4 separate regions of the Homo sapiens genome follow, and all the other regions are reported to be linked to region 4. The links are microRNA targets in miRTarBase. Many come from high-throughput screens and were not tested one by one. Region 4 holds a microRNA gene; each other region holds the end of a gene's coding sequence. Distances are from middle to middle.
The links. The annotated mature microRNA hsa-miR-135b-5p reads UAUGGCUUUUCAUUCCUAUGUGA and lies in region 4 at 1,513-1,535, opposite strand. An mRNA with a match to its seed (bases 2 to 7 or 8) in the 3' UTR can be bound and repressed. Matches are read on the target gene's strand: a 7mer-m8 pairs with bases 2 to 8, a 7mer-A1 pairs with bases 2 to 7 and ends in A, and an 8mer does both.

Region 1 (4,000 bases), 120 Mb from region 4:
GCTAACATCATATATTGCATCTATATTTAGCTCTTCTCTCCTTTCCTACAGTCTGGAGGAGGAAATCTTTTTATATGAATTGCATTTTTGTTACAGTAACATTTCTCATATAGACTACGTAAATTGCTAACCACATAACCCTTTAGTGAGTTAGTTATAATTTGCTTGTAAAAATCTAATTTGTTAACCATCATTTTTAGGTATTTACTACCAGGGAGCACCCAATTCTTCTTGAGAACACCAACCTACAACTTGAAGTACAATTCACCTGGAATGACTCGCTCCAATGTTTTGTTTACATCCAGATATGGCCATCTGTGAAACAGAAGGGAAGATCGCCATTGGTTATACATAACAGCAATTCATTTTTTTCCTCTGAAGTTGAACATGCAAAGAACATGACCATTAAGTGCTGTTTTATGTATATAAGACATATATATGTGTGAAAATATATGCACATATGCACCCTAATAACATATATTTATTATATTAAATGATATATGAAAGAAGAATTAGCAGAAAATGGAATATAAGACTTAACCTTTCTGGAAACGTAATAAACCATGTTAAAATTGTTTACACAAATATGTGAATGTCTAGAATCTGCTAGGTTTATAATTAATTCCTTCCTACTAGAAATGTTATTTTTGCTGCAGAGTATATAAAACAAATTGATCTTGAAGATCCAATTACAGTGTTAAATTATTTTCTAGATAACATGCCTTTTGACCTGAAAAAGGGTTTAGTATAATACCTTAAAAATTCTCATATATAGTAGCCATTTTAAATGAAACAAAAAGATTTAGAAGCCTGGTGTTGCTTGATGATAAGATTAAGAAGTTTAAAACGGGTTTATCATTACTATAGCACACTGTAAAGTGCTAGAAAAGTCATAACCTGATTCTCCAATCTTTTTATTCCTCTATGTGGAAATTTAGCTACTTGTAATAAGGTACATTTTCAGTAAGGATCTGGTGAGATCATATTATGATCTAACATGAAAGACAGGCTGGGCGCGGTGGCTCACGCCTGTAATTCCAGCACTTTGGGAGGCCGAGGTGAGTGGATCACCGCTGGTCAGGAGTTTGAGACTAGCCTGGCCAACATGGTGAAACCCCATCTCTACTAAAAATACAAAAATTAGCTGGGCGTGATGGTAAGTGCTTGTAATCCCAGCTACTTGGGCGGCTGAGACAGGAGAATCACTTGAACCTGGGAGGCGGAGGTTGCAGTGAGCCGAGATTGTGCCATTGCATTCTAGCCTGGGTGACAAGAGTGAAACTCTGTCTCAAAAAAAAAAAATAATAATAAAATAAAATAAATAAATAAATAAAAAGAAGATAAAAATAAATAAATAAAATGGAAGACAATCCAATGGGTTAAAAATAAAATGTAAACTAGCTTTCATTTTTACTTTTCATAATCACATAAAGGAACAGAAAATGATGGTAACAAAATCTTTCTATATGGCTTTTATGTCTTATACCACTCATTTTTATTTGGAAAGTATATCTTTGATGGGTTTAACATGTGGTTAAATACAATTTCTCCTGTTTCGCAGAAGTAGAAGAGTTGACACATTTCACTCATTTTAGTGTTACAGGATAATGAGACAAACTTATTTTTATAAATCTCTCAAGGTTGAAATCAACTTATATTGCAAATTCTAATACAGTAGTTTCTCATTGCACCACAGAAACAGTTAAAGGATTGTGAATAGAAGATTTCAATTATCACATATTACAAGTCATCAGTGTACCCTTGAGGGTTTTTAAAAAATCAAAACAGAGAACGAAGTGTTCTTGTCCAAAGTTGTTATGCATAAGTTTCATAGCAGTTTACTTCCTTTTCTTGAATACAGTTTTTAAAACCAAGAGTGAGCTTTCAGTTTTCCATAAAAATATAAGCCGTACTACTTTGACATTGAAATCATCAGTGCAGCCATCACTTCTTAGAATTTATTTAAACTTCTTCTCCCAACAGTTTTATTTTCTTTTAGCTGCTAATTATTTTCGAAATTCATGAATGTTTTACCTCCTTTTACTATTCTGAAAGTTATTTCAAGAAGTGGCCCCAAAGCAGGAGAACTGAGAGGGGCAAATTGGCCTGGTTTAATTCACAGCCTGAAGAATTGGCAACCTAAAGTTATAAGTTAGATGTATTTTGCTTTTCAAGCCATCTTCTGAGCCTTTTTTAGGCTGAAATGATTTGTTTATTTCCCAAATTATTGCTAGCTACTTGATTTTTTATGGCTACCTAACATCCACATTTGGTAGATACTTTTCCTCTCTGCATGCATCCCAAAGAAGAATTTGCTATTTGTGGAAGAAGAGAATAAGGGTATCAGAATGAAGGAAATTACAGTGACTACACTGTTTATGACTCCATTTTGTGAATTCTTAAATATGCTATGGATTTTTTTTTAGAAAAAATAATGCAAAAATTGGGATATTACAGAATCACCATAAAGATGATCAACAAGTAATAAGTCTTTTCATGGAGTTCATTTTTCTTTTAAATTCATGATTTGGCCACAAAAATATATATATAAGTGTCTGATATATGATAACAGCCCAGTTTCTCGGCCACTCATTTGCATTATCTTAAATCACAAATAATTACTTAATTTGCTGGAGTGTGTGCTTTGCAACTTTTGTACCAGAGCAAAATTTGTATTTAAAACAAAAAATAAGAATGCCCATCACTAGGAGAAACACTCCTCACAGAAAACACACACACACACACACACACAATTTAAAAACTGAGTAAATTTAAATGTATGAAAGTACCCCACAAATTGATTTCAACAAATAAATTTCATTTCTCTAGCTACTTATGTCTGGCCTTATTTTGAGCGTTACAATTTTATTGCCTTCATTTGCCTATTTAGACTGATGTAGTTTGATATGATGAAGTTGTGAATAAAAGCCTTGTGTTCATTATTTATATATACTACCTGGTATGCTATGGACTGTGTCTGCTGTAGTGCTATTCCCTAATGAGCAACTAAGAGAAGACACAACAATAAACCATGGAAGTGTTGGGAGGCCATGGAAATGATTTAGAGGTATAAAATATTCCCAAGTTTTTATTATAAATTTTTATTCATAGGTTAAAACATATAAGCATAAGTGATTGTACAGGTGTGACTCCCTTTTCTAGGAGAGAAAATAGCTTTATTTGAAAACTCCAAAAGCTACTTAATCTTACCAGAGGTTTTTAATAGGGGAACTGGGTTTACTTACAATGAAAGCATATTTTCATTCTGCTATAGAAAAACATATCCCTGCTCATTCAGTAAATCTAAGATTGGAATGCTTTCTAGAACTATGCAATATTTGAATAATTTCTAGAAATGTCTAAGAAACAACCTTTTTTATTTTAAATCATCACTTACAAACGTAGTCTGAGACTGCAAACTAGTTTTCACTTGACTAATCCATCATTATAGATTAGTTACCATTTGCTCTATATAATCTATTGAAGAAACTATTGTTATTCATATTTTGATTAATTTTACTAGCAACAAATTTTTATTTTAGTAGCATTGCATTTACCTTAAATATGTAAAAATGAAGTTGTAACAGGATCAAATATGGAAATGGCAATGGTAACTCTGCCTAGAACATAGTTGAATGTCCTTGGTTGTCGGTAAGATGCAAAGATCTATACAAATTTTATCATAGGTCAAAATTATTTCTAAATATACAAACAGTTTCAACTATTTCTTTCTCCCTAAAACTAAAACCAAACCAAACCCAAATGAAGAAACCTAAACTTCTTTTCATCTAATAGTTATACCCAACTAGATAATAGTAGCTTCTAGACATCAATAAAAAGATTTCATTTTAACTGTCTTTTTAATTTGTAAAATATATGAGTATGGAATTTTGTATCTAACTTGAAATTTCAGATGTTTTAATAATCCAAATACGTTCTTCTTTAGCATGTCAAAGTACTAATAGTTAAAAAATTTCTTTAGATTTAAGCATATACATTA
Region 2 (4,000 bases), not on the chromosome of region 4:
ACATACATACTCTGGCTTTCCTTGACAAATGTCAACTACCATCATTTCCTGTATATCTCTCTCTTATGGCACTTTTCTCAACCAGCAACTAGCCTGAAGCTAGAGGCCTCCTATAGCAGACAGGAGCAGCAACCACTTGGTCCTATACCTCCACAGCAACCTCATTTATCCCCGGGCTGAGAGGGAGATTGCTGGCCTGGATGGACTGGAAATTTAAGCTCTACACCTGCCTCAGGCCCCTGGCGGCCAAGGAAGGTATCAGCTTGGTAGTGGCCAAACTGATGCTAGATGACTAGAACTGGCTCTTCATCCATGCCTGCCCAAATACTCCAAACTTACTTAACATTTTGCTTACTTGATTGCAGTAACTTTAGAACCAAAATTTGTCTTTATTTATTCTTGTACATTGCAACATTTACCAAAGCATAGTAGGTACTCACTAAAGAATTTTTGGGCCAGACATGGTGGCTCACTCCTGCAATCCCAGCACTTTGGGAGGCCGAGGCTTCAGCCCAGGAGTTCAAGACCAGTCTGGCAACATAGGGAGACCCCCATCTCTACCCCCAAAAATAAAAACAAAATAAAATAAAATAATTTTTTTTGAGACAGAGTCTCGCAGTCTCGCCCAGGCTGTAGTACAGTGGTCCGATCTCGGCTCACTGCAAGCTCCGCCTCCCGGGTTCACGCCATTCTCCTGCCTCAGCCTCCCGAGTAGCTGGGACTACAGGCGCCCGCCACCATGCCCAGCTAATTTTTTGTATTTTTAGTAGAGATGGAGTTTCACTATGTTAGCCAGGATGTTTTCAATCTCCTGACCTTGTGATCCACCCGCCTCAGCCTCCCAAAGTGCTGGGATTACAGGCGTGAGCCACCGCACCTGGCCAAAATAAAAAAAAAATTTAAAGAATTTTTAAAGAACATGGCTTTGAAGTACTGAGTTTTATTTTGGCAACATGGGCTTTAGTGGGGGAAAAAAAGGAAGTAGAACCATGTTCTGAGCATCACATTTGCTTCTACACTAACTGGCAACTTCTGTGAGATGGGGATAAGGCCTGCTTAATTTAGTTCCCAAGGTTACTATGGAAAAAAAAAATCAAGTTTCTTTGCAGAGTTGGCCTATTCCTTGCCTGGGGCAGGAAGGTACAAACTGAACCTGGAACATTTATTTTGCCCATAAGTAAGGAAACTTTACAAGATTGCATTTGAAAATTCATGAAAGATTAATAGAATCAGTCTATTTCACTTAAATATTATTTTTCAGTCATGTTGGTATTGACTAATTTATTGTATCAAATAATATAAAATTAATGTAAATTTAAAAATTTTAAAGACTGAAGGTGACTCAAAGTTTACAAAAGGCTACAGGATTAAGTACAGGCCTCTTTTTGTGCTAATTAAAATATTCTTTTTTTTTTTTTTGAAACAGGGTCTCACTCTGTCACCCAGGCTGGAGTACAGTGGTGGGATCTTGGCTCACTGCAACCTTTATCTCCCGGGTTCAAGGGATCCTCCCACCTGAGCCTCCTGTGCAGCTAGGACTACAGGCACCTGCCACCACGCCTAGCTAATTTCTTTTTTGTAGAGACAGGCTTTTGCCATGTTGCCCAGACTGGTCTGGAACTCCTGGGCTCAAGCAATCTACCCACCTTGGCCTCCTAAAGTGCTGGGAATTTGAAGCCACTGCACCCAGCCTATATTCTAAGATTAGATACTGGTGATGGTTGCCAACTATGTGAATACACTAAAAATCCACAGAACGATACGCTTTATAGCTGTGTCCAACCCTTTGAATGTGAGGACTCTTTAGGTGGCAGCAGGTATCCAGATCATGAACTTTTTTGTAGCTCATCAGCTATCATTAGTGTTAATTTCTTTAATTTTTATTGAGACAGTCTCGCTGTGTTGCCCAGGCTCGAGTGCAGTGGTGCCATCTTGGCTCACTTCAATCTCTGCCTCCCCGGTTCAAGCGATCCTCTCACCTCAGCCTCTTGTGCCTCAGCTTCCCAAGTAGCTGGGATTACAAGCATAGGCCACCATACCTGGCAAATCTTTCGATTTTTAGTACAGATGGGGTTTCACCATGTTGGCCATGCTAGTCTTGAACTCCTGATCCACCCGCCTCAGCCTCCCCAAGTGCTGGGATTATAGGTGTCAGCCACCACAGCTGGCACATGTTAGTGTATTTAATGTGTGGCCCAAGACAATTCTTCTTCCAATGTGGCTCAGGGAAAGCAAAAGATTGGACAACCAGGCTTTAAGATAATTCCTTCCCTTAACTAGCTCTCAGGAAAGAATCTTTGGAAAAAGATCCTGGAGTTGGGAATGACAATAATGTTGTTCAGTTAACCTTTACAAGTATGGTTTTCAGGCCTGGATAAGGGTCACAGTTGTATTTTCAGAAAAATGTGCAGAAAACTTGAGTAGACATCCACCAAGGTTACTTGTTTTTTTTGGTTTTGTTTTGTTTTTTTAACAGATGGGGTTTTGTTGTGTTGGCCAGGCTGGTCCCCAATTCCTGGCCTCCAGTGATCAGCCCACCTGGGCTTCCCAAAGTGCTGGGATTATAGGCATGAGCCACTGCACCCTGCCTTAAGATTGTTTTTAATTGTTACCAGCTTCCAGAGGACAAGATCTCAAAAATCTGTGTTCCCTATAGTGACACACTATCATTGCCTATATTCAGTTGGCAAATAAATTTTACATTTACATATAGAATGTTACTTTCCAATTATGATTAGCATTATTATCAAATATATAATACTTTGGGACTTACAATGGAAGTGGTACCAATACAACTCAGTTGACTATTACATCCTCTGCTATTAGTCAATAATATCCCTGTTAGAAAAAATCGTTGCAGGGTTGCCCAAGAATAGCCTAATATTTCCAAATTAATATAATAACTAGCAGCTTTATGACTTTATATCTTAATATAATGAATTAACCAAAGTAGTCACTGTTCAAGGTTTATTGGGGGTTTTAGTTGGTATAACACTTGGATAGTTGGTTGCATTGTTTGTATGTAGATCTTTTTACATTATATGGTAATGTACACTACTGATATAGTTCACAAAATAAGATCCTTTGGAAGAATTATGCACAAGACATGATATTGGATTTATACACTGGATCCCAGGATGTGACTCACTGGGAAAAAATGTTGGACTAGGCATGTTCAGTGAAGGAGCCAGGAAGTTATATAACACACGGTAAACATCCACCTGGCTCAAGGGGCAAATGCAGTACGTACAGCATTGGCAGTGGTGCGTCAGAGGTGGCAGAACTATTTCACACTAACCAGTTGAAGACTACACAAGATTAATACCATCCAGCATCAGGATATAGCTGTGGATTTTACAAACCATTCTTATTTCTAACTTCAGGAGTTGATGTTTTTCCCAGTCCATCTTAAAATATTACTGCTTTAATCACAGATCAGATAAAAAGGACAACATGCACAACCTCCACCTAGAATCCTGTTGTAGCCTAGACAGTGAAATGATATGACATCAGAAGACTTTAAAATTGCAGCTCCTTTTGGATCCCCCAAAGTGTATCTGCACTCTTCTTCAAACGGGCCTCTTCCTCAGAAGTCAGAGTCACCTTCACAAGGTCTGAGATTCCATTCTGTCCCAAAATGCAAGGAACACTAAGGAAGACATCATCCTTTATTCCGTAAAGACCCTGAAGATGAAATGAAAAAAAAAAAATCTCACATTTTGTCTATGCATTCCCAGGTTTCCCAAGACTTACAGTCTCTATAATTATAAAGCTTTTTTTTTTTAATTTTTTTTTGAGGCAGAGTCTCGCTCTGTCGCCCAGGCTGGAGTGCAGTGGCACGATCTCAGCTCACCGCAACCTCCACCTCCAGGGTTCAAGTAATTCTCCTGCTTCAGCCTTCTGGGACTACAGGCGTGCGCCACCACACTTGGCTAATTTTTGTATGTTTAGTACAGATGGGGTTTCACCATGTTGGCCAGGTTGGTCTCAAATTCTTGAC
Region 3 (4,000 bases), not on the chromosome of region 4:
TGTTGCTTAGGCTGGAGTGCAGTAGTGTGATCTCAGCTCACTGCAACCTCCACCTCCCAGGTTCAAGCAATTCTCCTGCCTCAGCCTCCTGAGTAGCTGGGATTACAGGCACGTGCCACCAGCCCAGCTAATTTTTTCTTTTTGTATTTTTAGTAGAGACTGGATTTCACCATGTTAGCCAGGATGGTCTCTATCTCCTGACCTTGTGATCCACTCACCTCGAGCTCCTAAAGTGCTGGGATTACAGGCGTGAGCTACCATGCCCAGCCAGTCTTTTTTTCTACTGAGTCCTAATGCCTGTTTACAATGCAAATTTTACCCCGAATATATATTTAACTCTACATTTGTTCTTTGAGAAAGGTAAGGTTGTTGAGCATAGTTTTATCTTTTCGTTCTTAGATCCACCATGCTTTTGGTGGTGTGCATGTAAATGTTCACTGAGCGTCTACTGAAAAAGTGTTTATAGTGTTTTTAACACATCACATATTTTGAAGGGAAAAAAAATATGGGCATACAAATAGTTGTTTAACTCATTTCTTTCTAGGGCCATGGAGTTGGGGAGAGAATGTCTAAACCTCTGGGGGTAAGTAGTGGTTGTGTTGCTTTCTTTTGAGGGTAATACTGTTACAGTGAGATACATGTTCTCTTCTCCCAGACTATTCTGTGATTCCTTGCTTCTATAAATGGTACTACCCCTAAACTGTAAAAGTTTGGCTAAAATTCTAGTTCTTTTTTATGCCCCACAGGTATGAACGGGTAGATGAAATTATTTGGGTGAAGACAAATCAACTGCAACGCATCATTCGGACAGGCCGTACAGGTCACTGGTTGAACCATGGGAAGGAACACTGCTTGGTGAGCAGCAGTGGGGCCCAATTCAATAGGTGGAGCACAAAGAAGAATCATTTGATTTCTTACTGAGAAAAAGTTCAAAGGTGTGGTTTCATAAGGTAATCTGTTATCTGTGGTGAGCAGGTTGGTGTCAAAGGAAATCCCCAAGGCTTCAACCAGGGTCTGGATTGTGATGTGATCGTAGCTGAGGTATGTGCTTCCCAGGCCTCCAAAGCTTCCACATTTTTGTTGGTATCAGTTATTCATGTTGGGTGTATTCTCATCCCAGATTTTTCTCATTTAGATCATAAACATAATAGAAAGGGCTAGAATTGCAATCTTGTGTAACTTAAAAAGCAGCTAGTTTTTATTTCCTAGGTTCGTTCCACCAGTCATAAACCAGATGAAATCTATGGCATGATTGAAAGACTATCTCCTGGCACTCGCAAGATTGAGTTATTTGGACGACCACACAATGTGCAACCCAACTGGTAAGGTGACCAGAGAACAGGCTAGTCCTCAAGGGGCTATTATTTATGATTAAGGACAGAACTTAGTAGAGCTTCACATTGTTTTACACTAGTCCATAAATGAGCTTCACAGGATTCATAAGCCACTTAAGCTTGTATTTAAACTGTTTTATGAGATTCTACAAATATTCATTAGAAACTCAACAGGTTCTAGGACCCAAAAGCACTGCTCCCTAGGGTTTCTACTCTCTTCACAACCCAAGGATCTTCCTCAGCCATTCTGTGATGTATTGAATCTGCCCCCTGGTGGTTACGAAGTTATCTATTTAATCTGTCAATAATTACATCTTTCACCCCTTAACAGAGCTTAAAACACATGCTGCTAGCATTTTGCTTATCCAAAGAATACTCCCTGGTAGCAACTCTGTGAAGCAGGCCTGGCTAAGCATTAGTTACTAACCCTCAGATAATACAGATCCAGTCTATTTTAACACCAGAATCTATGCCAATTCTGAACTAGTAATTCTACCATATACTATTCTAATGTTAAGCTCTTTTTAGAATTGGCATATTTGATATGATGATAGGCAGTCTTCATTTGGTATGCATTTTTTAACAATATTAAACCCTCTAATTCCAGGATTTCTGGTTTGCCCCTCCTTTTACACTGTTTCAGGATCACCCTTGGAAACCAACTGGATGGGATCCACCTACTAGACCCAGATGTGGTTGCACGGTTCAAGCAAAGGTACCCAGATGGTATCATCTCTAAACCTAAGAATTTATAGAAGCACTTCCTTACAGAGCTAAGAATCCATAGCCATGGCTCTGTAAGCTAAACCTGAAGAGTGATATTTGTACAATAGCTTTCTTCTTTATTTAAATAAACATTTGTATTGTAGTTGGGATTCTGAAGTCCATTCTGGCTCTGCTACTTAACAGTGTATAATCTTGTGCAACTCATCTCTCAGTATTATATGTGAAATGGGAGTATTACCTCATTGGGTTGCTGTGAAGGTTCAAACTAAATGAGTGCATGGGAAACATTAAAATGATCATTATAGGCTAGGCACAGTGGCTCACACCTGTAATCCGAGCACTTTGGGAAGCCGAGGTAGGAGGGTAACTGTAGCCCAGGAGTTCAAGACTAGACTGGGCAACATAGTGAGACCCCATCTCTACTGCTACCCTCCAAAACCATTAAAAAAACAGGAATGCAGGCTGGGTGCGGTGGCTCATGCCTGTAATCCCAGCACTTTGGGAGGTCAAGGCGGGCGGATCATGAGGTCAGGAGTTCGAGACCAGCCTGGCCAACATGGTGAAACCCTGTCTCTACTAAAAATACCACAAATTAGCTGGGCGTAGTGGCGGGCGCCTGTAATCCTAGCTACTCGGGAGGCTGATGCAGGAGAATCGCTTGAACCCGGGAGGCAGAGGTTTCAGTGAGCTGAGGTCGCACCACTGCACTCCAGCCTGGGTGACAGAGCGAGACTCTGTCTCAAAAAAAAAAAAAAAAAAAAAAAACAAAAAACACACAGAAAACAGGAATGCATAGGATAAAACTATGTACGTAGCTGGTTGAGGAGGAGGTTCTCTAGGACAGCATTCCTGTCTACAAACAGTAAAAATTTGAGTTTTATTTAAAGTTATCACCACTTGGACTATCATGCTGTAAACTTCTGCTTATTCTGTTACAACCAGGTGGCTTCTCTAGTCTGTTTTTCTTTAGATTATGTCTAAGAAATAATGATAGACCTATGGTCTTTTAAAGATAGTTCATCAAACACAAGTGAATACAACTTTAGACTTTGGTGGAACCTCTTACTAATGATGTAGAGTTCCGCCTCTTAGATTCATGAACTGTGATAACTCAGATAAGGATGGTAACTGCAGAAATAATATATATAAAGAGAAATCACTCCTGGGTGATGTCATTTTCCATGTAGCCCAGTATGCCCATGTTGAAAAGTTTTGTTTTCAAAGCAGTGTACTGATGTGATAATGGGGAATAACATTTTTTTATGAGGGAACCCTTTAAAATGGATGCACACAGTGGCATTTTCTCCTAGGCTCAAAGCTGAGTACACTCCCGTAATTTTAATAATATTTTAGGCAAGTCCTATGACAATTATACCAACAAGTTTCTTCAACCCCACCACCACCCCACCATCTCTATGCTTTGCTTGCCCAGACTCCCTTCACCCTTTCCTCTGCTATTACCGCTTATGGTTGAAAGTAAAAAGCATCTCCAGATTACAGCAAATTCAGTGGCCCTGCTCCATAGCCTGGCCTCTGCTGAAGGAAGAAAAGGGGTGAAACATGAACAGCCATCATGGGTTGTGATGAGGCACTACCAGAAGCCCAGCTTGTGTTTCAAAAACAGGCTCTTGGACACTTTCCCAGCAGATAACTCTTCACTGGCTTGGAGAACAGGAAGGACTATTTCACAAACACCACTGTGTTTGAATTTCTAGAGGCTACCCAGGCCAAGAATACATCCCTAAGAGAGAAAAAGACATACACAAACAGAATTATACACAAACTGAAATAGAATTACAGCCTAGATACATTTTTTTTTTTGAGACGGACCTCATGGGTTCACGCCATTCTCCTGCCTTAGCCTCCCGAGTAGCTGGGACTACAGGTGCCCACCACCATGCCCGGCCAATTTTTTGTATTTTTAGTGGGGACAGGGTTTC
Region 4 (4,272 bases):
AGGGGAAGTAGCCTGGATCAGCCCCAGCAAAAACCCAGCTGGCTTGGGATTTCTCTTTGCTTCTCCTATTGTTCTGATCCCCCCGCTCCCCCCGACCTCCTGTGGGAAAAGGAAAACCAGTGATGGACAAAGGGTGATTGGAGTTGGGCCACGGGGCCAATTTGTGGACGTGCATCCAATAGAGATCTCGTGAGAACAACCTCCCGTCTGGGTACAGCACTCCCTGGTTTTCAGAGTACTTTCCCATGCACTGGTGTTGGCTCTCCCAATATGCAGCATGATGTGCTAAGAGCATGGGTTTTGGCACCAGACCACGTGGGTTCACGTCCCAGTTGTGCTCCTTCCTATCCATATGAACGTGGGCCAATTTCTTAGCTCCCTGTGCCTCAGAATTCCCATAAGTTAAATAGGCTAACAGTAGACAGGACTGTCTTGAGGATGAAATGGGTTAGTGCAGGTGAGGCGGTTAGAATCATGGGGTACATAGTAGGTACCCAGTAAGTGTTGGTTGGTGAAATTAAGGGCTCTGAGATATTATAAGAAACTTGCCTTCTGATTGTCAATACCAAATCTAGTGCTTTCTGTGATTCTTCAGTGGTCTGTCTTAGACAGACTGGGGACTGGAACAGGGAGTAGGAGGCGGGGTACGAGGATGCTTCCTCTTCCACCACAGCCACCTGTTGGAATCTTCCAGGATGGGAGGGCTAAAATCAGGCCGATTTAAAAGGGGGCAGGGGAAGGAATGTGGGAGTGGCGACAGGCATAGGGAGGAGCCAGGCAAGCTGAGTGACAAGCAGGACGGGGGCAGGGAGGGCTGGTGCCCTTCACACACCGCAGGAGGGGGCAGCTCCTGGAGATGGTAGCACACCAGGAGCCAGGGACCCTGGAGTCCAGCCTGTCGCCCGGGGGAGCGCCTGCCTTCCTAGTTTCACTCTGCAGACACCTCCTCTTCCCTCGTGGCCGGCATGGAGTGTTCCCATTTCAGCCTCAGAAAGAGCCCAGAGGTCTCCTTACACAGAAAAAAGGCTGCAGATTCCAAGCTGACCTCAGAGAAAGGAGTGAAGGAGTGAGGTTTTCCTGGAGGCACTGAGCAAAGGCCCAAGTCTTCATGGCCTGAGGCCCTTGACTTCAGCCCCCAAATCTCTGGCCATAAGCCAGGCCTCAGTAATTTGGCAAGGGGGAAGGAACCGACTCAGAAAGCTCAGCACACCCTGAAGGTCTCCTTCCTTCCTCAGAGGGAATCTCCCTCTGGAATCACCGGCCCAGTCTCTTCATTCCAGAGTGAGGAAACAGGGCCAGAAGGGAAGTGACTGGGCCAAGGTCACACGGCTTAGCCCCGATCCCAGGTTACCAGATCCCGTGATGCCCCACCCCCAAGCAAAGCCTCCTTCTGGTGCCCCTTGGTGGCTGGCTCCGAACCTGGTCCCATGGGAGGTGCAGCTGCGCAGGAGAAGGAGCTCGCCCCTCACTGTAGCCCATGGCTTTTAGCCCTACATGAGTTTGGGACAGCAATCACATAGGAATGAAAAGCCATAGGCCACAGCAGAGTGGAGGGGTCCAGCGGCAGGAATCTCATAGGGAAGCGAGAAGCTGGGGCACCCGAGAAGCCCTCACTCCCCTTCTCAGCACCCCCGACCCCAGACCCACCCACACTGCCTCCCTCCAGGACTGGGCCCCCCAGGTTAAATTCTCTCACCATCTTCCACCACCTGCACTAAAGCCATCCCAGTAATGAGTTTCCAGTTCTTGCCCTACAAAGGCCTCACACAATGGTCCTCACTCCAGGGTATGAGGAGGGGTGGCTTCCTGGCCATAAAGGACCTCCTCAAATTCCCTTAATTAGCTTCCAGCCCCCTGCCCAGGGTCCTTAACTACCCCTTCCCTAGAGAATAAGGCCGGATCTTTTCAAGGCTGCTGCTGCCAGTACCCAGGATGGGGGGCCCCAGGTTAGGCTCCCTCTTTACAAAGCTTAACTCTTTCTAGTCCAGCCACTGGAAGCACAGAGGGCAAAGGAGGGTCTGGGTAAAGGAGGGCAGCGATGAGGACCTACCCTTTGTTTAGAGGGGTTAAATAGGTTTCTTGAGTGCCCCCAGGGGTGGGGGCTGGGCCAACCTACCCAGACCAGTCTGGGTGGTTACCGACAACACCCATTCTTGCATAGTTTAGAGGAGAGTGAGATCTCTGTCTCCAGACCTGGTTGGAGTCAGAAAGAGGGCTTCAGCTGAAACCTCCCCAAGCTGAGGGCAGCTCACTCTGGAGCCATCCCTGACAAGGCTGTGGGAGGGGTGCGCAGTGCCCTGCCGCTCTCATTGGCAGGACATGGGGGTTAGCACAGACATCTCTAGGACTGGATTGAAGAGCTGAGTTAAGGCGAACCAAGGTCTCAGGGCCCTGGAAAAGGTGTGTTCTAATCACAAGTGCTATTTCCCCACCCGCTCCCATGACGGGTCAGCTGCAGGCATCAGCTTCAGAGAAGTGGGCTTCTAGGGCTCCTGCTAGCCCAGGCTCAGGAAAGCCCCAGGGGCCTCAGACCTCTCCCAGGGGCCCCCAAGAAGATGGTAAGAGGCCCCAGGCCCAGATCAGGCCCTGCCTCTGCCAGGGAGTAGCTGCCTCTCCCACCCCAACTGTACCCTCAGCCCCAGGGCAACACTTGCTGGCTCCCTGCACAACCCTGGTAGAAGCAACCTGTTTTCACTGGACAGGAATCCTGCATTCCCCAACAACAGCACAGCACAGCACAGCACACAGCACACAGCACAGCACAGCACGCCCCTCCACACACTCCAGACATGCCCAACCTTCAGGGCCAAACAACCAGGCATCCTGCGGCCTCCCACCTGAACTTTGGGCCATCTGCCCCAGCCCCAACCCCCTCTGGTTCTCCTTTCCTTCCTCTCTCATGGGCCCCCAGAACCCCAGACCCAGGCCCTGCATAAAGCCATGGACTCTAGGCAGAATGCCCTCAGCTCCCTCCCAAGGGATGCTGGGCCAGGGGCTGGGGGTCCCAGGGGCTGCTCACCTGGCGGACTCAACAAGGCCCCCTTTCCCTCGCAGTCCGCCTCACAATTCCCCGCAGAGCCACTTCCTGCCTTCCAGGCAGCCACTCACTCCTCCACTCACCCCGAGAAGCTCCACGCCCCAGCGAGGGCAGGCCTCCTCCCTCCCCCTGCCCGCCCACCACCGGCCAGGGCTGAGCTGTACCCAACTCAACTTGACTCACTTGTGACCGGCCCCTCCCCCAGCCCTGAGGACGGTGGGGGTGGGGGTGGGGGCGGGCTGGGCAGGCGGGGCAGCCAGGTATTCCTTCAACCCTGACTTGGGCCTGAGTAACAAAGGTCTCATTGAGCCTCTGGCTGTCTGGTCGGTGAAGCACAAACCTCTTGTATCTACTGGCTTTTGATCTCACTCCCTCTGAACCAGCCATGTATTACTCACGTCCCCCTGCCGGGCTATTGGTGCAGAGGGGCTGTTTGGTCCCTCCCTCCCTCCCCATCTCCTTTCTCTCCTTCCTTCCCCTGCCGCTCCCCTCCAGCTTTTTTATAGTTTAATTTTTGGCAGGAGACCTGAGACGGCTCCCTGCAGGCCCCCCTCTCCTGCCTGGCCCCCCTCCCCTTCTCCGCAGCCCTGGTTCCTCTCCTCACCCATACCCCTATTCTGCTCCCACCACTCCCCTGCCCTGGGAGGACAAGGTCAGCACTTATCTGTCCTTCCATTTCCTTTCTCAGACCTGCTCGAGCCTGGCCCCCTCCACCCACCCTCACCCAGTCCTGCGCTCGGATTCCCAGCCATAGCCTGCCAATCCCAGCTGCCTATCCCTGGGCACATGAAGGGCTCAGCCCCTGGCCTGCCTACCAATCCCAGCCCACCTGACAAGCCCCAAGTAAGCTGTGGAAGTAGGGCATCTCTCTCTAAGGTGTGTCTGGGCCAGAGGGACTGGGCTGGGGATGGAGGTGGGGACAGCCATCATGTCTCAGGCTGGAGTGAACCTCACTTGAAATATGGAGAAAGAGGAAGCAGGTCAAGCCTCACCTCCTTTCCCGAGGAAAACCCTGCTTCCTCCAATCCCGAGAACCTGGGCAGTGAAAGGCCACTGCTGGGCGAGAACCTCGAGGACTCCCTCTCCTCAAGATGGGGCCATGCCCACGATTCCTGTCTCCTCTGGGGCCACCACAACCTTTCTGCAGCTTGCTGGTGGTGAGAACTGGGGCCCAGCAGCCCAAGGGGCCCAAGGGATATCCACTGTGTATAAGGGCCACCTCACAGGGCCACTGG

Region 1: miRTarBase lists TTLL7 as a target of hsa-miR-135b-5p. Seed matches in the 3' UTR shown: 7mer-m8 at 2,173-2,179.
Region 2: miRTarBase lists LDHA as a target of hsa-miR-135b-5p. The part of its 3' UTR that is shown has no 7-base or 8-base seed match.
Region 3: the mRNA of TOX4 is a reported target of hsa-miR-135b-5p. The part of its 3' UTR that is shown has no 7-base or 8-base seed match.

The regions. Positions count from the first base shown.
Region 1 is chr1:83,866,283-83,870,282 of GRCh38, reverse strand. TTLL7 (tubulin tyrosine ligase like 7) reads left to right here. Exons shown (of 21, transcript NM_024686.6): 21 at 201-4,000. The coding sequence ends at 321. Among named protein-coding and RNA genes, the nearest start is that of LINC01725, 7.3 kb to the right of the region's middle.
Region 2 is chr11:18,406,801-18,410,800 of GRCh38, reverse strand. It overlaps LDHA (lactate dehydrogenase A), which reads right to left. Exons shown (of 8, transcript NM_005566.4): 8 at 2,376-3,684. The coding sequence ends at 3,520. Among named protein-coding and RNA genes, the nearest start is that of LDHC, 3.5 kb to the left of the region's middle.
Region 3 is chr14:21,496,347-21,500,346 of GRCh38, reverse strand. It overlaps TOX4 (TOX high mobility group box family member 4), which reads right to left. Exons shown (of 9, transcript NM_014828.4): 9 at 1,177-3,801. The coding sequence ends at 3,741. METTL3 (methyltransferase 3, N6-adenosine-methyltransferase complex catalytic subunit) reads left to right here. Exons shown (of 11, transcript NM_019852.5): 7 at 545-583; 8 at 747-855; 9 at 976-1,041; 10 at 1,210-1,322; 11 at 1,978-2,209. The coding sequence ends at 2,089. Among named protein-coding and RNA genes, the nearest start is that of METTL3, 13 kb to the left of the region's middle. RefSeq lists enhancers at 1,506-1,555, 1,586-1,675.
Region 4 is chr1:205,446,849-205,451,120 of GRCh38, forward strand. It overlaps MIR135B (microRNA 135b), which reads right to left and starts at 1,550; the gene lies at 1,454-1,550. All of the region lies in intron 1 of BLACAT1 (BLACAT1 overlapping LEMD1 locus), which reads right to left. It also overlaps a transcript of LEMD1 not described here. RefSeq lists a silencer at 3,135-3,344.